Linked DNA regions of Homo sapiens: regions 1, 3 and 4 are each linked to region 2. The links come from fine-mapping of genetic effects on gene expression. A gene starts in region 2. Each other region holds a variant in brackets. All regions are shown on one strand. Distances are from middle to middle. Region 1 overlaps MPPED1 (metallophosphoesterase domain containing 1). Region 2 holds the start of ARFGAP3 (ARF GTPase activating protein 3). Region 3 overlaps PACSIN2 (protein kinase C and casein kinase substrate in neurons 2). Region 4 overlaps PACSIN2 (protein kinase C and casein kinase substrate in neurons 2).

What was found. PIP is the estimated chance that this variant, and not a neighbour inherited with it, causes the effect. A credible set is the group of variants that fine-mapping cannot tell apart.
Region 1: its variant is the best candidate, but not a certain one, in a credible set for the expression of ARFGAP3 in substantia nigra (GTEx, PIP 0.85).
Region 3: its variant is the best candidate, but not a certain one, in a credible set for the expression of ARFGAP3 in whole blood (TOPMed, PIP 0.79).
Region 4: its variant is the best candidate, but not a certain one, in a credible set for the expression of ARFGAP3 in whole blood (TOPMed, PIP 0.59).

Annotation. Positions count from the first base shown.
Region 1 is chr22:43,495,664-43,500,663 of GRCh38, forward strand. MPPED1 (metallophosphoesterase domain containing 1) reads left to right here. Exons shown (of 7, transcript NM_001044370.2): 5 at 2,572-2,687. Among named protein-coding and RNA genes, the nearest start is that of EFCAB6-AS1, 18 kb to the right of the region's middle. The variant C/T (reference allele first, on the strand shown) is at 2,918.
Region 2 is chr22:42,854,925-42,859,924 of GRCh38, forward strand. ARFGAP3 (ARF GTPase activating protein 3) reads right to left here and starts at 2,349. Exons shown (of 16, transcript NM_014570.5): 1 at 2,190-2,349. The coding sequence starts at 2,258. RefSeq lists an enhancer at 1,508-2,352 and a silencer at 1,875-2,624.
Region 3 is chr22:42,908,901-42,913,900 of GRCh38, forward strand. It overlaps PACSIN2 (protein kinase C and casein kinase substrate in neurons 2), which reads right to left. Exons shown (of 11, transcript NM_001184970.3): 2 at 3,121-3,257. The coding sequence starts at 3,180. Among named protein-coding and RNA genes, the nearest start is that of ARFGAP3, 54 kb to the left of the region's middle. The variant A/G (reference allele first, on the strand shown) is at 2,044.
Region 4 is chr22:42,977,821-42,982,820 of GRCh38, forward strand. The region is part of intron 1 of PACSIN2 (protein kinase C and casein kinase substrate in neurons 2); the gene reads right to left. Among named protein-coding and RNA genes, the nearest start is that of PACSIN2, 35 kb to the right of the region's middle. The variant T/C (reference allele first, on the strand shown) is at 2,334.

The DNA.
Region 1 (5,000 bases), 640 kb after region 2:
GGAGGTGGTGGTGGTGGAGATGGTGGTGGTGGAGGTGGTGATGGAGGTGGTGGTGGTGGAGGTGGTGGTGGTGGAGGTAGTGGTGGTGGAGATGGTGGTGGTGGTGGTGGAGATGGTGGTGGTGGAGGTGGTGATGGAGGTGGTGGTGGTGGAGGTGGTGGTGGTGGAGGTAGTGGTGGTGGAGATGGTGGTGGTGGTGGTGGAGATGGTGGTGGTGGAGGTAGTGGTGGTGGAGATGGTGGTGGTGGAGGTAGTGGTGGTGGAGGTGATGGTGGAGGTAGTGGTGGTGGAGGTGGTGGTGGTGGAGATGGTGGTGGTGGAGATGGTGGTGGTGGTGGAGATGGTGGTGGTGGAGGTGGTGATGGTGGAGGTGGTGGTGGTGGAGGTGGTGATGGTGGAGGTGGTGGTGGAGGTAGTGGTGGTGGAGGTAGTGGTGGTGGAGATGGTGGTGGTGGAGGTGGTGGTGGTGGAGGTGGTGATGGTGGAGGTGGTGGTGGTGGAGGTGGTGATGGTGGAGGTGGTGGTGGAGGTAGTGGTGGTGGAGGTAGTGGTGGTGGAGATGGTGGTGGTGGAGGTGGTGGTGGAGGTGGTGGTGGAGGTAGTGGTGGTGGAGATGGTGGTGGTGGAGGTGGTGGTGGAGGTAGTGGTGGCGGAGATGGTGGTGATGGAGGTGGTGATGGAGGTGGTGGTGGTGGAGGTGGTGGTGGTGGAGGTAGTGGTGGTGGAGATGGTGGTGGTGGAGGTGGTGATGGAGGTGGTGGTGGTGGAGGTGGTGGTGGTGGAGGTAGTGGTGGTGGAGATGGTGGTGGTGGTGGTGGAGATGGTGGTGGTGGAGGTAGTGGTGGTGGAGATGGTGGTGGAGATGGTGGTGGTGGAGATGGTGGTGGTGGAGATAGTGGTGGTGGAGATGGTGGTGGTGGTGGTGGAGATGGTGGTGGTGGAGGTAGTGGTGGTGGAGATGGTGGTGGAGATGGTGGTGGTGGAGGTGGTGGTGGTGGAGGTAGTGGTGGTGGAGATGGTGGTGGTGGTGGTGGTGGTGGTGGTGGTGGTGGTGGTAGTGGTGGTGGAAGTGGTGGTGGTGGAGGTAGTGGTGGTGGTGATGGTGGTGGTGGAGGTGGTGGTGGAGGTGGTGGTGGCGGAGGTGGTGGTGGTGGAGGTGGTGGTGGTGGAGGTGGTGGTGGTGGTAGTGGTGGTGGAGGTAGTGGTGGTGGAGATGGTGGTGGTGGAGGTGGTGGTGGTGGAGGTGGTGGTGGTGGAGGTGGTGGTGGTGGAGGTAGTGGTGGTGGAGGTGGTGGTGGTGGAGGTAGTGGTGGTGGAGGTAGTGGTGGTGGAGGTGGTGGTGGTGGAGGTAGTGGTGGTGGAAGTGGTGGTGGTGGAGGTAGTGGTGGTGGAGATGGTGGTGGTGGAGGTGGTGGTGGAGGTAGTGGTGGCGGAGATGGTGGTGATGGAGGTGGTGATGGACGTGGTGGTGGTGGAGGAGGTACTAGTAATGGAGGTGGTGGTGGAAGTGCTGTTGATGGTAGAAGTGCTAGTGATGGTGGAGGTGGCGGTGTTGGAGGTGGTGATGCTGGTTACTTTATTGACATAAAGGGCCCATTCTTGTGGAATCATGTATGGGTGAAACCTACGGGATGATTCTGATGCTTTTGTTGCAAATGACTGAAAACCCAGTTCAAATGGCTTTGTGTTGGCCCGTATAATTGGGAAGTGCTGAGGTAGGGTGGGTGTCTGGTCCAGTTTGATCCAGCTGTTTCTTGGGTAACTTAACAGCTGCCGACAGCTGCCCACAGCTCCCAAGGCTAGAAGCTCACTGTTTATACACAGGGATGATAGTATCCACTTTTCTTCTTGAAAAGAGACTGCCTGCAATTGGAAGGATCTAGGTGATGTGTTCACCACTGAACTGACTAGGGGGAATATCTGGCATTGATGGGTCCAGGTCTTGGCTGGGGAGCAGGCTACCAGGCTGGGATTGCGTATAATGGTCTAGGTCCACCTGGCCCCACCCTCCCAGCTGGGGATGGGCTCAACTCTACCTGGACTCCCTGGCCAGAGCTTCCAGTATAAGCAAGAATGAGCAGCCCGCACCTGGAATCTGCTCTCTTTTGACTGGGGGTCCACACACCCCACCTGGGGGAGGGAGGATGGAGGGGCATCTTCCTGGGGGTGGGGGTGGGAGTATTGGAGAATGTATAATGTTCCCTGTGGATTTTCTTAGAAAGGCTTGGAGCAGGAAAGGTCTTAGGAAGAAGCTGATATATATATGTATATGTATATATATATATGTATTTAGCTTTCTTTTTTTTTTGGTTATGTAAATAATACTTACAGAAAAACAGAAACTGCAGGTAAGCAGAAGGAGAGAGGAAAGAGAATTGCCTGGGGACCCACAGACCGCCAGTGGGTCAAAGTCCTGGTGAGTCCCTGCCTTCCCTAGGTGGAGACCTTCCCTGGGTCTCCAGGTAGCGAGCTGGTCCTGAGGGCCCCCTGGCCCGTGGGGAGCTCCGCATTCCCTCTGACCACCCTGTACTTTCACCCGCCCTCCCTCAAACACCTGCACTTCTTCTACAGGCAGCCCTGGTTCTACGGCTGGGGCTTCAACCTCCCGCGAGGCCAAGCCCTGCTGGAGAAATGGAACCTCATTCCCGAAGGCGTAGACATCCTGATAACCCATGGACCACCACTGGGTAAGGCTCTGCTGGCCTGGCCCTCCAGCTCGCCCATCTGGGCTGGTGGGTGGGCTCTGGGATGGGGGGCTGGCTGGGCCTGTATAGGGGAGCCCTGGAGGGGTTCTGAGTCCCACTTGCTGGGGCACTGAGGACACGTCGCCCCATGGTCCCTCTTATTTCCTGAGTGCCCACTGAGAGCAGGGGGCTTGACTTGTTATCTTGTGGGCTCCTCACAACAGCACAGGAGG[C/T]CAGAATCACCTGCCCATTTGACAGGTGGGACCCTGGAGCTTCGGCTTATGCCTCTGCAGACCCCAGTCCCGGGTGCTGAAAATCACCAGAGCCCTGCACAGGGCTTCCTCCGGGCAGCCCTAACTCCCTCAGAAACCTGGGGTCCCCACTTCCTCACCCCCACCCAGCCCAACATCCCCAGGGCCTGTAGACCACCTCCCATCTCTCCTCTCTGCCCCCACCCCACCACCCAATCCACACTGAGGTCATCCCCTCATCTGCATACTGCCTCCTCCACCCCTACTGTCCCATCTGGGGGCTCTCTCAGTTCCCTTCCTTTCCTCATTCCCACAGCCTGGCCATCACCACATCCCTCCCATTCCACCTCCAAACTGCCTCCCACTCCCCCTTCTCTTCAAGCTGCTGACCCTGCCTCAGTCCAGGACAATGTCTTCTCTCTCTCTCCCATGGTCATGGTGGAGGTGGTGGTGATGGAGGTAGTGGTGATGGAGGTGGTGATGGTGGAGGTGGTGGTGGTGGAGGTGGTGATGGTGGTGGAGGTGATGAAGGTGGTGGTGATGAAGGTGATGGTGGTGACGGAGGTGATGGTGGGAGGTGGAGATGGTGGTGGTGGTGGTGGGAGGTGGTGATAGTCATAGAGGTAGTGGCAGTGGGGATGGGGTGGTGGTGGTGATGGAGGTGGTGGTGATGGTGATGGGGGTGGTGATGGATGTGATGGTGGTGGTGATAGAAGTGGTGACGTGGGAGGTGGTGGTGGTGGGAGGTAGTGATGGTGATGGAGGTGGTGGTGATGGTGATGGGGGTGGTGATGGATGTGATGGTGGTGGTGATAGAAGTGGTGGTGATGTGGGAGGTGGTGGTGGTGGGAGGTAGTGATGGTGATGGAGGTGGTGGTGGTGGTTATGGGGGTGGTGATGGTGGTAATGGAGGTGATGGTGGTGGTGATGGAGGTGGTGGTGATGGTGGGTGGTGGTGGAGGTGGTGGTGGTGGTAGTGGAGGTGGTGGTGGTAGTGGAGGTGGTGGTGGTGGTGATGGTGGTGGTGATGATGGTGGAGGTGGTGGTGGTGGTGATGGGGGTGGCGGTGATGGGGGTGATGGTGGTGATGGTGGTGGTGGAGGTGATGATGGTGGTGGTGATGGAGGTGGTGATGGGGGTGGTGGTGGTGATGGTGATGGAGGTGGCGGTGGTGATGGTGGAGGTGGTGGTGGTGGTGATGGAGGTGGTGATGGGGGTGGTGGTGGTGATGGTGATGGAGGTGGTGGTGGTGATGGTGGAGGTGGTGGTGGTGGTGATGGAGGTGGTGATGGGGGTGGTGGTGGTGATGGTGATGGAGGTGGTGGTGGTGATGGTGGAGGTGGTGGTGGTGGTGGTGATGGAGGTGGTGATGGGGGTGGTGGTGGTGATGGTGATGGAGGTGGCGGTGGTGATGGTGGAGGTGGTGGTGGTGGTGAGGGAGGTGGTGATGGGGGTGGTGGTGGTGATGGTGATGGAGGTGGTGGTGATGGCGATGGAGGTGGTAGTGGGGGTGATGAAGGTGGTGATGGAGGTGGTAATGGAGGTGGTGGGGGTGGTGGTGGTGATGGTGATGGAGGTGGTGGTGATGGTGATGGAGGTGGTAATGGAGGTGGTGGGGGTGATGGTGGAGGTGGTGATGGAGGTGGCAGTGATGATGGTGGTGATGGTGATGGAGGTGGCGGTGGTGATGGGGGTGGTGGTGGTGATGGTGATGGAGGTGGTGATGGTGGTGGTGGAGGTGGTGGTGGTGATGGTGATGGAGGTGGTGATGGGGGTGGTGGTGGTGATGGTGATGGAGGTGGTAGTGGTGGTGATGGAGGTGGTAATGGAGGTGGTGGTGGAGGTGGTGACGGAGGTGGTGGAGGTGGTGGAGGCGAAGGTCTTGCCCCTTCCAGTCCACTCGCTTTACATCAGCAGGAGGGAGTTTTCTGTATCCTTATGTGTGCCATGCCACCCCTCTGTGACCCTCTGTGGTTCCCTCAGTCCTCTGAATGAAGTTCAGTCTCCCAGCAGTTCGGCCCATATCAGTGTCTTGCTCCCACCGCCACCTCCAGAAACCCACCAT
Region 2 (5,000 bases):
CTCATTGCTTTTATTAATCTTATTACAGAATATAAATTTTTCACAGGTGTGTTCTTCATCATAAAAACAGCTGCCATTTATTGAAGACTATTATATGCAGTTCCTACTCTAAGTGTTTTTCTTGGATTATTCCATTTAATCTTCACAATAACCCTCTGAGTCAGGTCTAGTTCATGCCCCATTTTCAGAGGAGGAAAAAAGGGACAAAGTGGTCAAGTAACCTGTCCAAGGGTGACATACCTAGAAAGTAGCAGTTTGGACAATACAAGCCTGTCTCTCAAAAGCCTCTTGATATAAAGACATTGATTTCTAATTTAAAATTATCTTTGAATTAAATCAAAGAGAATACATGTTGATGTTTCTGAGATAAAGGTGACAAAAAAATATAGTTTACACATTGCTAACCGCAGATCCTAATCTTGACTAAGTTACACAGGACCCACTCTTTATAAACACATCAATCTAAATTTAAAAATCAAGGCTGGGCGCGGTGGCTCACGCCTGTAATCCCAGCACTTCAGGAGGCCGAGGCGGGTGGATCACTTGAGGCCAGGAGTTTGAGACCAGAGTGACTGACATGGTGAAACCTCGTCTCTACTAAAAATATAAAAATTACTTGAGTGTAGTGGTGGATGCCTGTAATCCTGGCGACTCAGGAGGCTGAGGCAGAATTGCTCAAACCCAGGAGGCAGAGGTTGCAGTGAGCTGAGATCGCACCACTGCACTCCAGCCTGGGCGACAGAGCAAGGCTCTGTCTCAAAAAAATTAAAATTAAAACGTTAAAAAAAAAAAAAAGAACATTAAGGCCAGCATGGTGGCTCATGCCTGTAATCCTAGCACTCTGGGAGGCCAAGGCAGGAGGAGGCAGGAGGACTGCTTGAGCCCAGGAATTTGACACCAGCACGGGCAACATAGCAAGACCCTGTCTCTACAAAAATTAATTAATTAATTAATTAATAATAACAATTAGCTGGGCGTGGTGGTACAGCCCTGTGGTGTCAGCCTCATCAGGAGGCTGGGAAGGAAGGATGGCTTGGGCTGGGTAGGTCAAGGCTGCAGTGAGCTAGGATCAAGGCACTACACTTCAGCCTGGGTGACGGGGTGAGACCCTGTCTCTAAAAAAATAAATAAATAAAAATGTGAAAATCAAGAGAACAGTAAAGAAACGGGCACTGGAGAATTCCTGGAGCCTTTCTCTTAACTTTCCCACATCCATCAGACATCACCTCCAATAAACTGTTTCCTTCCTCACCTAGGCTGGAAAAAATATGGGCTCCCCTGTACCATCAAGACTTAAAACCAACAGAAACACCTATTTTGTAACACTCGGGAACTTTCTATGCCAGCATATCGAGGTTCAATAACAGCTGTTCCCTTCGGGAAGTGACAGTGGGAACCAGACAACACTCGTGTCACAGGAGGGGCGGGGAGAGCCCACGCTGACGCGACAGCCCTTTGCACTCTCCAAGTCCCTCTCCGACCCGACGTGTCACCTTAGCCCCCTGCGTCACCCCAACGCCTCCAGCCAGCTGCGCAAAGCTGTAAAAGTTCCAGGGAGAGAACAGCCTCTGGAGACAAAAAAAAAAAGGAAACCTCCATCTCCAAAGAGAACCGAGGAGAGGGAGGAGGCTGTGGTGAGCCTCCCTGGCCAAAGCGACAAAAGCTGGAAGCCAAAGCGTAGACTACTCGGCAACTTTATCAGAAGAGAAACTGAGGCAGGCACCGCAAGGCCCGAGGAGCCAAGCCGGCTCCAACAGGCGGGGTCGAGCTCCAGGGTGGCGCTGGGGGAGCCGCGCTTTCCCCGCATCCGGCGCCAGCAGCCGGGGTTTCCGAGCCGGGAGCTCCCTCCTCGCAGCGCCCCCGAGGATGCCCCCGCCCCCGCCTCCGCTCAGAGCCGCCGGTGCTCGCCCCCCGCCCCAAGAGCTCGCCGGGGGGTGTGCCCGCGCCGCCGCCCCCGGGAACGCTCCCCGGCTCGCGTGAGGACCCCCGCGCTGCGGCCTCCCGCCCGGGCCTCTCAGCTGCCCGGCCCCGCCCGCCCCGGCCCGGCCAGGCTGCCGCGGCCCCACAGTGCGACGTGTCACAGGCCGCGCCGGCCCCGCCTCCCAAGCCACGGGCACTGGCGCCCGCGGGGCCTCCCGCCGGTTCCCGCAGGGATGCCAGGCAGGCCCGCACTCGCCCGCGGCCGCTACCTTGTTAGTGGGCACCGAGCGGAGGCGCTTGAAGATGGTCAAGATGTCCTGCTTGCTGGGGTCCCCCATCGTCAGCTGTGAGCCGCGGCGCAGCTGGCCCAGCCAACCGGTAAGAGTCGACGAAAAGCGGCTACCGCCTCAGCAGGAGCGACGAGGCCGCGGGGGCGGGGCTGCGCGTAACGGTCAGGCTCCGCCCCAATCCCCGCCCACGACCGGGCCCGTCCACCGCCGGGGCGCAGGCGCCGCTCGCTTTCCCTCCCCGCCCTCGCTTCAGCCGCGCCGCTGGCCCGACCCCAGGCGCTGCACGCGCGTGCGCAGGAGGCTCGCGCGCCATTTGCGGCGCGGCTCCACGCCCTTAGCGCTGGGCGAAGCCGGGCCCGGGTGTGGCTGCCTGCCACGCGCGCTGCCATAGGATCCACCAACGTTTCGCCTGGTCGATCGCCATTTCGCCTAACGGGCTGCTTCCATGGAAAGGTCAGAGGCAGGGGAAGGGGCGCACGCGCCCTCCTTCGGCACGAGACGGACGGAGGGCCCGTGCCTTGACGCCGGACCTTAGCTGGTGGCCTTCCCTTTTTTTTTTTTTTTTTTTGAGACGGAGCCTCGCTCTGTCCCCCAGGCTGGAGTGTAATGGCGCGATTGCGGCTCCTTGCAACCTCCCTGGTTCAAGCGATTCTCCTGCCTCAGCCTCCCGAGTAGGTGGGATTACAGGCGTACATCACCACGCCCGGCTAATTTTTGTATTTTTAGTAGAGACCAGGGTTTCACCATGTTGCCCAGGCTGGTCTCGAACTCCTGACTTCAGGTGATCCACCCACTTCGGCCTTCCAAATTGCTGGGATTACAGACGTGAGCCGCCGCGCCCGACTCTTTTTAATTCTTGCCCTCAGCTCACGCCAGGCCCTGGGTGGAAAGCTTTCTTTGCCCGGAAACTGGCTTTCTGAAACCAAGGGCTTTTGTGTCACGTTCATGGAGAGATGGCAGTGCGGGTTGAGGCAGAAGTGCTCAGTCAGAACTGATGAGTCCAGATGAGAAGCTTGACTTTTAACCCCGGCCCTCGGGGCTGCACCCTACCCTCTGGGAAACAATTCCAGCCAGAAGAGTTTACACTCAGCAGAAGGTGCCTCTGTCACCACAATGGGTGTGGAGCCACTGGAAAGAGGTTGGGTGATAGTGAGGAAGGACAGCAGGTTTTGGCATCAAAGGCACTACCTTGGCCTCAATCCCAGTTCAGCCAGCTGCTTCCTAGCTCTGTGGCCTTGGTCAAGACACTTACCTTCTCTAAAGCATGGTTTATTTGCAGTCTCAGGGGCTCATGCCTGTGATCCCAGCACTTTGGGAGGCTGAGGCGGGAGGATCACTTGAGCTCAGGAGTTCAAGACCAGACTGGATAATATGGTGAAACCCCGTCTCTATAAAAAAATGCAAAAATTAGCCGGGCATGCTGGCATGGGCCTGTAGTCCTAGCTACTTGGGAGGCTGAGGTGGGAGGATCGCTTTAGTCCAGGAGGTCGAGGCTGCAGTGAGCCAAGATCGCACCACTGCACTCCAGCATGGGCGACAGACCAAGACCCTGTCTCAAAAAGTAAAATAAAATAAACCATGGTTTATTCATCTGTACAAAGAAATTAAAGAATCAGTGCTGAGTAGCACAGGTGAGCAGCTTCCTAGGGATATCCTGAAGAGCCTTTGGTGGAGGCTTTCTACTGTTAGAAGTCAGGAAATGTACACTCCACCTATCTGCTTGGAGACCCTCGGTGGCAGTTGGGAGCTTGCAGACAATGTAACTTATAAACCCAAAGCTGCAACTTTTCCAAGAAAGGGAAATTGATTATCTTCCAGAAAAGTACATTACTTTTGCAGGTAGCTCTGATGGTTTAAAAGTTCTTCCTGTATTGAGTCGAAGTATAACACCTGTGCTTTGTGTCCACCGGGTACTAGTTTGGCCTTATGCAGAATACCGGGCATGTTTATGAGCAGTTTTATCCTTCCTGATGGGAATGGGAATGATGGTCCCATTTACTACTTGGAGCTGAAATCTTACTAAGTTATATTATCAGAGTAGTGCAGTCTAGCCCATTCTCCACCATAGAGATTGAGGAGAGGGAAACAAAAGCAGTAAATTATAGACAGTATCTACACGAATAGGGGAGGAAGGGGTAGGAGGTACCATTTATACACTATGGTTGCTTAAGTGTTCTTCATAGAACTTAGCATCTAATACTATAACATATAATATTCTATCTATATGTTATCTGGCTCTAATTGAATACAAAAATATATATTTCTGGCCGGGGGCGGTGCCTCACACCTGTAATCCCAGCACTTTGGGAAGCTGAGGTGGGTGGATCATGAGGTCAGGAGTTCGAGACCAGCCTGACCAACATGGTGAAACCCCATCTCTACTAAAAATACAAAAATTAGCCAGGCATGGTGGTGGGCACCTGTAATCCCAACTACTCAGAGGCTGAGGCAGGAGAATCGCTTGAATCTGGGAAGCAGAGGTTGCAGTGAGCCGAGATCACACCACTGCACTCCAGCCTAGGCGACAGAGCGGGACTCTGTCTCAAAAAAAAAAAAAAAAAATATATATATATATATATATATATATATATATATATATTTCTTGAAATCAAATGTTTTTTCTCCTTTTTCTTTTGAGGAGTCTCGCCGGAGTGCAGTGGTGTGATCCTGACGCACTGCAACCTCTGCCTCCCAGGTTCAGCCGAGTCTCCTGCCTCAGCCTCCTGAGTAGCTGGGATTATAGGCGCCCGCAACCATGCCTGGCTAATTTTTTTTTTTTTTTTTTTTTTT
Region 3 (5,000 bases), 54 kb after region 2:
TCCCTCCTGCTCTCATACTCCATAAGCATCTTCTTTGTGGGAACTGGATCCCCTCTCCCCTCTTCCTCTTTTTATTTTTCCCCTATATCTACAGGGTTGGGGGAATGCAGGAGGTACTCCTTCCGAATATGCATTAAATAGCTCTATTCAGTATCATGTCCCTGTGGGTAACCTCTCCTCCCACAGGTCAGTATGGGTTCCTTCATTCGTCCAGCAAGCATCCAAGTGCAGCAACGTCCACTACCCCATGCTGCCTTTCCTGCCCTTCCCCCTGGGCAAACCTAGCAAATCCTACGGCACCTGGCATGATGACCTGCCTAGTGTCTACCTTATTCCTCCAAATGTCACAGCCAAAGGCTCCTGGAGGACAGGGCCACACAGAAGATGGCTCTGGAATGACATATTCCAGTTAGTATCTTTTGGTGGGAAGGAGTAAAATTAAACACAAAAAACTTTTCCACCTCAAGACCACAAGGCTTTCTTTGGAAAAGTGTCCTTCCATGGGAAAGAGGAACTTGCTACCTGCCTGGGAAGATGTGCAGTTGGCAGTGTGCACCTGAGTCTCTCAGATCCCAGCAGGCCATCACTGAGCAGTCACTCCGCCACTCAACGAACATCCGTCATGGAGAAGGCGGACGACCACAGCACTGCGGAGTTGATACCAGCTGGAGAGTAATTTCAGGGACAGCATCACAAGCTGAGCAGAGCCCGCCTGAGCATTTTCAGGCAAAAGGAGATGTTCTTGTCTACTGACATTATTGCAGTTGAGAATTTAACAGGGAGCATAAGAGCTTAATTACTGGACTTGTTAAAGCTAGTTGATTTAATATATGCTGACAATATACACTGGCAACGTTCACCTGAATGTTTTTTAACAAGCAGCTGAAGAATTCTGTAATAGCACTATATTTAGCTACATAATTTTCCCAGCAGTTTCTGCCACCAAGTGGGTAATGAAGACAATGTCGCCAAGGGCACCGCAGGAACAGACATTGACTGTGCACACCGACTCCCTCAGCTCCCGTGTCAGAGGGAAGGGCCCCCACCAGCCTTGCCCTGATGCCCTAAAACACTTAACGTTTATTCATTCTTTTAACCCTCACAATACTAGGATATGGGTACCGTTATTACCCCCATCTTATAGATTGGGAAATGAAGGCAAAGAAAAATCAGTAACTTGCCCAAAGCCATACACAGAAGTAAGTGATCAGGTCAGCAGTCAAACCCAGACCTCCTGGCTCCAAAGCAATGTCTTCACCTGTCCCCATTGCCTCTCCTGGCCTATCCCTCACAAGGAAGGGCCTTTTGAGTGTGCTTGTCCTGTCTGCACCACCACCAAGCTCAAGGCAGGGAATGATTGGTGCCAGCCAGCAATGTCACTACAGTTACAAAAAAGAGGCTCCCCATAACTGGAAAGGTTTCTATCTATAGTTTTGGTTCAGTGTTGAGAACAAGGGCCTGCACTTCTAAAGGCTGGAGAGCTCACAGGAAGGCTCTCACAGCTGCTGCCAGCTCCATAAGCGCTCCTGCACTAATGAGGCCACAGCCTCTCTGGGGGGGCCAGCCAGCGGGACCTGATTACTGTGAACCTGTACCTGCAAGCGGGGGCAAAGGCAGTCCTGAATTCTAGCACTATTCCAGGGGCACCTCCAAACCACGTCGTGTAACTGCTGGTCCTGCTTCATCTAGTTTCACGGCCAACCTCCTGCCATGCTGTGAGATGTGGCTGGCGACCTGTTTGGCTGTCACTGCTCCTGTCACTCTTGCTGTCTTAAGTGAAATATTTCTCAGGCAGATGTGCCTCTCCGGCTGCTGAAATTTGAGCTGGGTGCCCCCCTCACCCCTCCAGAAGGATGCCACCAGCCGAGGGGTGGCAGCAGAGAGGACCTGCATGCTCTGTGCCTTTCCACATTTATTTCTGCTGTGGCAGAAGCCAGCTTCTGGAGGGCAGGAACTCAGTCTGTCACATCCCTTGCCTAGCACACTACAGGTACTCAGTTAACACATAATTTTTTTTTTTTTGAGACGGAGTCTTGCTCTGTC[A/G]CCCAGGCTGGAGTGCAGTGGCGCTGTCTCGGCTCACTGCAAGCTCCGCCTCCCGGGTTCATGCCATTCTCCTGCCTCAGCCTCCCAAATAGCTGGGGTTACAGGTGCCCACCACCACGCCCAGCTAATTTTTTGTATTTTTAGTAGAGATGGGGTTTCACCATGTTGGCCAGGCTGGTCTTGAACTCCTGACCTCAAGATCCACCCGCCTCGGCCTCCCAAAGTGCTGGGGTTACAGACATGAGCCACTGCGCCCGGCCATGCAAAGCCTCTTTCCATGAAGGCCAAGAAAGCTCCAGGGGTTTTGCCACAGGGACAAAATTAGACCAAAAATTGACTTCCTATAGTCTCAGCTACTCAGTAGGCTGAGGTGGGAGGATGGCTTGAGCCCAGGAGATCAAGGCTTCAGTGAGCCATGATGGTGCCACTGAACTCCAGCCTGCGCTCTCGAGACCTCAACTGTTAAAAAAAAAAAAAAAAAAAAGATGGACTTTCCATTAACTAGCAGGAAGGAAAAGTAAGTGGGACTCAGGAACAACACCCTCCGCCTCCACAAAAAAACAAAAATAATCCAATCAGGAAGAGGGCCACTCATGGGTACAGACTGGCGGCAGATGCTCCAGCAAGTTTGAAGGCATTTGGCCCTCTGGCCACTTGCCTGTGTTGTCCAGCATGATGTCAAATCACAGCCCTCCTTGTTTCTACATAAAACTCAACAGTAAAGTGCCTCGTAGGATAAGCTGAGCAATTAGTGTCTGTCTCTCCCACTCACACCATGGCAAACATAAAAAGGAAGGTGATCCCCAAGACCTTTCATAAACACCCCTAACCTCTTTAAGTATCAGCCTTTCCTAGCAAGGTAAGTTCACTGCCTTCGATGATGGCTAAGGCATACCTGAACTGCCTAAAAACAAGTGTCCAAACCTTTTCTGCTGCTATCTAGGTCTGACTACAAATGCATGGCTGGTTTGGGGGTATGTTCACCTCAGTTCCCAACCTCCACCAAAAAAACCAAAGGGCCTGCCAGACACTATTGGCCTGGCCACTTCATTCACTGGAAGAAAGCAGGTGCATTACCTCCCAGAAGCTGTCGCTGGACACTTCTACTCCAACGGAATCATCATATGTGACAGACATTTTTTCAAAGGCTGAGGGAGCAGCAAAGTATACTTAGTCAGGGGTCAACTTCGAACGCTCAAAATCTGTAGACAAACCTATAAATGAAAAACATATAACATAGTGGTTTTTAAATTCCCAAGGTAAAGAAACAAGTCATCTCTATTTCACAACTTCCCGTTTCTAATCACTGCCTTCAGTACAGGGCGGTCTATAATATTTCCTTTAGGTGGCAGAAAGCCAGTAGACTCTAATCAACTCTGGGCACATATGTGTATGTCTGTGTGTGTGCATGGTGGGTGATGGGGGCGAGGGGTGCATGTGCATAAAAGGCAGAGTCCTTGGATCTCTGGGCTTGCCCATCCCGACCTACTCTACCTAACTGGTAGGGCTAGGACCCGGGATAAAACGTGAGTGGAGGTAATCCCACCTTTGACACCCTACTCCCCTCTCCAGAGTGGCTACCACATTCCACTTGTGTGAGCACTGTCCCCACTCAACTCCACCTTTACTGACTCCGCCACTGAAGCCACAAATTCAGACCAGTTTGTTCTGACACTGTCTGTGTGTGGCTCAGCTGGAAAGCTAAATGGATCACTTCTGAATAACAGACTCAGCAATCTACAATCCAGGCAAGGGTAAAGGCGGCAATTATTTCCCCTGTTGGAGGGAAGAAACTGAAGGACTCCCATAAGCACAAACCACACCTTGCTAGTGTGATGACCTGTCCGCAGCCGAGATGAAACTGTCTGACTTTTTGGTAAAAAGGTGACCCCACCTTTCTTTACCTTACCCTGTGTTCAGATCACACAGCCAGAGATCCAAGACCTTCCTCACTGCCACAGTCAACAGTCTAAAGCCTTAGCTTAGCAACAGGAAGGGGTGAGACAGAATGGCCAACTTGTTTTGAGCACCAACAAGGCACAAGACTTTGTTCTAGGTCCTGTTTCATATGTAATCACATGAATCTTCATGATTCTCTGTGACACAGCCTGGAATTGGAGCAAGAAACACAGACTCCAGAGTCAGACTACCTAGGCTTAAATCCCAGACCCATTACTTATGAGGTGGGCAACAGTGGGCAAGTTACCTACCCTCTCTGTGCCTCGCTTGCCTTATCTGGAAAAAAGAGACAATAGGCCGGGCACAGTGGCTCATGCCTGTAATCCCAGCACTTTGGGAGGCCAAGGCGGGCGGATCACCTGAGGTCAGGAGTTCAAGACCAGCCTGACCAAGACGGAGAAACCCCGTCTCTACTAAAAATACAAAATTAGCCAAGCGTGGTGGCATGTGCCTATAATCCCAGCTACTCAGGAGGCTGAGGCAGGAGAATCGCTTGAACCTGGGAGGTGGAGGTTGCGGTCAGCCAAGATCGTGCCATTGCACTCCAGCCTGGGCAACAAGAGCGAAACTCCGTCTCCAAAAAAAAAAAAAAAAAAAAAAAAGAGAGACACTAATGGAACCTACAACACAGAATTGCTGCAAGTCAAATATATACAAGAGCTTAGAACAATACTTGGCCCTTAGTAAGTGCTACGAACTTACTAAGTACTGTTATACACCCTTAGTAAGTGCTACGAACATAGTAAATAATGAATTATTGTTGCCACTATTATTATTGCATAGTAATTATGATTACTATCATTACTTCTGTCTCTATTTTAAAGTCAAGACAATTGATGTTCAGTAATTTGCCCACGGTTGTCCAAGTAATGGCTGGTGGAGACTAGTATTTGACACCAGCTCTGCCTGCTTGCTAAGGTAATATTCTCTCCATTACACCAAGATGTTTTCCAAAAACAATCTCAAAGTTAAGTAAATCAGGCTTCCTACAACCTAAA
Region 4 (5,000 bases), 120 kb after region 2:
CTTCCCCTTCCACCATGATTGTAGTTTCCTGAGGCCTCCTAGCCATGCTTCCTGCTAAGCCTGTGAAACTGAGTCAATTAAACCTCTTTTCTTCATAAATCACCCAGTCTCAGGTGGTTCTTTATAGCAATGTGAGAACGAACTAATACAGGGGTACTCATACATTGCTAGTACAAGTCTGAAAAAGACTAGAGCAATTCAGTGTGACATAACTACTAAAAACTACTGACCTGGAGAGAGATCCAGAGTACAACACTCACTCACTGGCTCATTCATTCATTCATCCCACAATGAGCACCTACAACCTGCCATGCACTTTTTTCAATTATTTGTTATCAAAAGAGCTTAAATTCAGGGGTGTGTAAGCTCAAGAGAAGTGAAAATAACAAGTTGCTGAATAATGCCTACAATAGGTCCCTCTCTTTTTTTAAAACATGCATTTGTGAGGGTCAGGAGAAAGTTGTGGAAGGCTCTGCTACAACAAGCAGTCAACAGTTGATTACCACCTAGCTGTTTATACATCTTCTGTTTCTCTTGGCATGAGCACACAGTAACAAATCCAATAACCTATAACGCTGAGAAATCTAACAGAAAATATCAGTCTTCGTTTACACGCAACACAAGAAGAGCACAGGGCCCACACTGCGTTGGTGGCAGAGCCAAAAGTCCACCCTCATCCTGCTGAATGACTGCAAAGCTGGGCTCTTCACTCCCAGATGACAGTGTTTCTCCTCACTCACATTCACCCACCCACACAGAGCAGAAAGCAGGAAGGTTTCCATGCCCGCACTGACGGTAAGTTGTGGGAGGCAGTCGGGCAACATTTCTGGAGTTCCTATGAATGATGTGCTATGCTTTTTGGCCTGCAGACGTTCAGGTGGACTCAGATCTGAGACATATTCAAAAGTATGTTTGCATCCTGGCCCTTGGTTTATGTATTTCCTCTTCCCTAGGGCATTCTACAAAGCATTTCCAAAAAGGCTGGTCCCTGCCCCTTAACTGGTTCCTCCTCCTGGCAACAGCATTCCAGCTGGGCTTTGGGAAATCTCCCTACTCCTTCAAAACAATTGTTTCTCCCCTGGCTTCTTTTCAGGTTTCCTATGAGTCTATGAGGTCACTCCACCCAATGTCTTCCAAGGAACTGATTATGCTCAGGTTAGCTGGTGACCTCAGAACTCTGACCAGTATAATGAACTGTGACAGAAAGGAATGCATCCTGTTGACCAATCCCCCTGCAGTATAGCACAGACAACAGGGGTACTACAAAGCTCCATTGCCTAGGAGAAACAGCCAGCACCTGTACTGGCTGAGACATAGAAACTTCAAAAACAATTCAAATGTCCATACCACTGCCCAAGGCCCAATGATGGTTCATCTGTTTGTGTTTTTATTTATAGATTTACAGAAATATAGAGATATTTGGCCAGGTGCGGTGGCTCATGCCTGCAATCTCAGCACTTTGGGAGGCAGAGGCAGGTGGATCACCTAAGATCGGGAGTTTGAGACCAGCCTGGTCAACATGGTGAAACCCCATCTCTACTAAAAATACAAAAATTAGCCAAGCGTGGTAGCAGGCGTCTGTAATCCCAGCTACTCCAAAGGCTGAGGCATGGGAATCACTTGAACATGGGAGGTGGAGGTTGCAGTGAGCCGAGATCATGCCACTGCACTCCAGCCTAGGCAACAAAGCAAGACTCCCTCTCAAAAAAAAAAAAAAAAAAAAAGGAAAGAAAAGAAAAAAGAAATATACAGATATTTAACTAAATATAAAAACAGTCAAAAAACAAAGAAAGAAGTAATTGGCCCAGGTCAGATACCTCCTTCTCTATGAATTCTCTGGCTCCTTCCTCCTGGGAGTATATGCTCTGTCTTAAGGCACCTGCCGCTTTCTAACTTGGGTTATAGTTATTTAAACACAGACATTGCCTCCTCTAGGCTGGGAGATTCCTGAGGACAAAATCCCTAAGTTATTAATGGATTAACGGATCCCCCTTGCATCCTGACCACATGCTACAGACTGATATGTTGCCCAGTGTGCTGAAACACGTTTGTCTGCAAACCCCTGCTTATGCCAACTGTACTTGTCATTGTAAATTTACATACACACATTTATTACACATACGCACATACATACAATACACATATAGTATAAATACACATACATGCTTAACTATATAAACCTATGAAATAAGCGCATCATTGTTTCCATTAAAACTATTAAAACAAGTTTCTATTAAAACAAGTTGTTAATTAAAAAAAAAAGAAAGAAAGAAACAATCTGCTAACTAAATTATAGGTATGGCAAAACAAGTATAGAGTATTGGGTGAAAATT[T/C]GTAAAATCTATAATTCCACATTCATGTTGCTTCTAAGTTCTCAATTGTCATTAAGAAAATTAATTAAATTAATTAATGGCCACACACAGTAGCTCATGCCTATAATCCCAGCACTTTGAGAGGCCAAGGCATGAGGACTGCTTGAGCCCAAGAGTTCAAGAACAGCCTGAACAACATGGCAGGACCTTGTCTCTACTAAAAATCAAAAACACTAGCTTGTCATGGTCATTAGGAGGTCAAGGCTGCATGATCACACCACGACACTCCAGCCTGGGCGACAGAGAGAGACCCTCCCTCAAAAAAACAAACAACCCTCTCCCTCTCCCTCTCCCCCTCCCCCTCCCCCTCTCCCTCTCCCTCCACGGTCTCCCTCTGATGCCGAGCCAAAGCTGGACGGTACTGCTGCCATCTCGGCTCACTGCAACCTCCCTGCCTGATTCTCCTGCCTCAGCCTGCCGAGTGCCTGCGATTGCAGGCGCGCGCCGCCACGCCTGACTGGTTTTCGTTTTTTTTTGGTGGAGACGGGGTTTCGCTGTGTTGGCCGGGCTGGTCTCCAGCTCCTAACCGCGAGTGATCCGCCAGCCTCGGCCTCCCGAGGTGCCGGGATTGCAGATGGAGTCTCGTTCACTCAGTGCTCAATGGTGCCCAGGCTGGAGTGCAGTGGCGTGATCTCGGCTCGCTACAACCACCTCCCAGCCGCCTGCCTTGGCCTCCCAAAGAGCCGAGATTGCAGCCTCTGCCCGGCCGCCACCCCGTCTGGGAAGTGAGGAGCGTCTCTGCTTGGCCACCCATCGTCTGGGATATGAGGAGCCCCTCTGCCTGGCTGCCCAGTCTGGAAAGTGAGGAGCGTCTCTGCCCGGCCGCCATCCCATCTAGGAAGCGAGGAGCGCCTCTTCCCCGCCGCCATCCCATCTAGGAAGTGAGGAACGTCTCTGCCCGGCCGCCCATCGTCTGAGATGTGGGGAGCACCTCTGCCCCACCGCCCTGTCTGGGATGTGAGGAGCGCCTCTGCTGGGCCGCAACCCTGTCTGGGAGGTGAGGAGCGTCTCTGCCCGGCCGCTCCGTCTGAGAAGTGAGGAAACCCTCTGCCTGGCAACCGCCCCGTCTGAGAAGTGAGGAGCCCCTCCGTCCGGCAACCACCCCGTCTGGGAAGTGAGGAGCGTCTCCGCCCGGCAGCCACCCCGTCCGGGAGGGAGGTGGGGGGGGTCAGCCCCCCGCCCGACCAGCCGCCCCGTCCGGGAGGTGAGGGGCGCCTCTGCCCGGCCGCCCCTACTGGGAAGTGAGGAGCCCCTCTGCCCGGCCAGCCGCCCCGTCCGGGAGGGAGGCGGCGGGGGGGGTCGGCCAGCCGCCCCGTCCGGGAGGGAGGTGGGGGGGTCAGCCCCCCGCCCGGCCGGCCGCCCCGTCCGGGAGGTGAGGGGCGCCTCTGCCCGGCTGCCCCTACTGGGAAGTGAGGACCCCTCTGCCCGGCCAGCCGCCCCGTCCGGGAGGGAGGTGGGGGGGTCAGCCCCCCGCCCGGCCAGCCGCCCCGTCCGGGAGGTGAGGGGCTCCTCTGCCCGGCCGCCCCTACTGGGAAGTGAGGAGCCCCTCTGCCCGGCCAGTCGCCCCGTCCAGGAGGGAGGTGGGTGGGTCAGCCCCCCGCCCGGCCAGCCGCCCAGTCCGGGAGGGAGGTGGGGGGTCAGCCCCCCGCCCGGCCAGCCGCCCCGTCCGGGAGGGAGGTGGGGGGATCAGCCCCCCGCCTGGCCAGCCGCCCCGTCCGGGAGGTGAGGGGCGCCTCTGCCCGGCCGCCCCTACTGGGAAGTGAGGAGCCCCTCTGCCCGGCCAGCCGCCCCGTCCGGGAGGGAGGTGGGGGGGTCAGCCCCCCTTCCGGCCGGCCGCCCCGTCCGGGAGGTGAGGGGCGCCTCTGCCCGGCCGCCCCTACTGGGAAGTGAGGACCCCTCTGCCCGGCCAGCCGCCCCGTCCGGGAGGGAGGTGGGGGGACAGCCCCCCGCCCGGCCAGCCGCCCTATCCAGGAGGTGAGGGGCGCCTCTGCCCGGCCGCCCCTACTGGGAAGTGAGGAGCCCCTCTGCCTGGCCAGCCGCCCCGTCCGGGAGGGTGGTGGGGGGGTCAGCCCCCCGCCCGGCCAGCCGCCCCATCCGGGAGGTGAGGGGCGCTTCTGCCCGGCCGCCCCTACTGGGAAGTGAGGAGCCCCTCTGCCCGGCCACGACCCCGTCTGGGAGGTGTGCCCAGCGGCTCATTGGGGATGGGCCATGATGACAATGGCGGTTTTGTGGAATAGAAAGGCGGGAAGGGTGGGGAAAAAATTGAGAAATCGGATGGTTGCCGGGTCTGTGTGGATAGAAGTAGACATGGGAGACTTTTCATTTTGTTCTGTACTAAGAAAAATTCTTCTGCCTTGGGATCTGTTGATCTGTGACCTTATCCCCAACCCTGTGCTCTCTGAAACATGTGCTGTGTCACTCAGGGTTAAATGGATTAAGGGCGGTGCAAGATGTGCTTTGTTAAACAGATGCTTGAAGGCAGCATGCTCGTTAAGAGTCATCACCACTCCCTAATCTTAAGTACCCAGGGACACAAACACTGCGGAAGGCTGCAGGGTCCTCTGCCTAGGAAAACCAGAGACCTTTGTTCACTTGTTTATCTGCTGACCTTCCCTCCACTATTGTCCT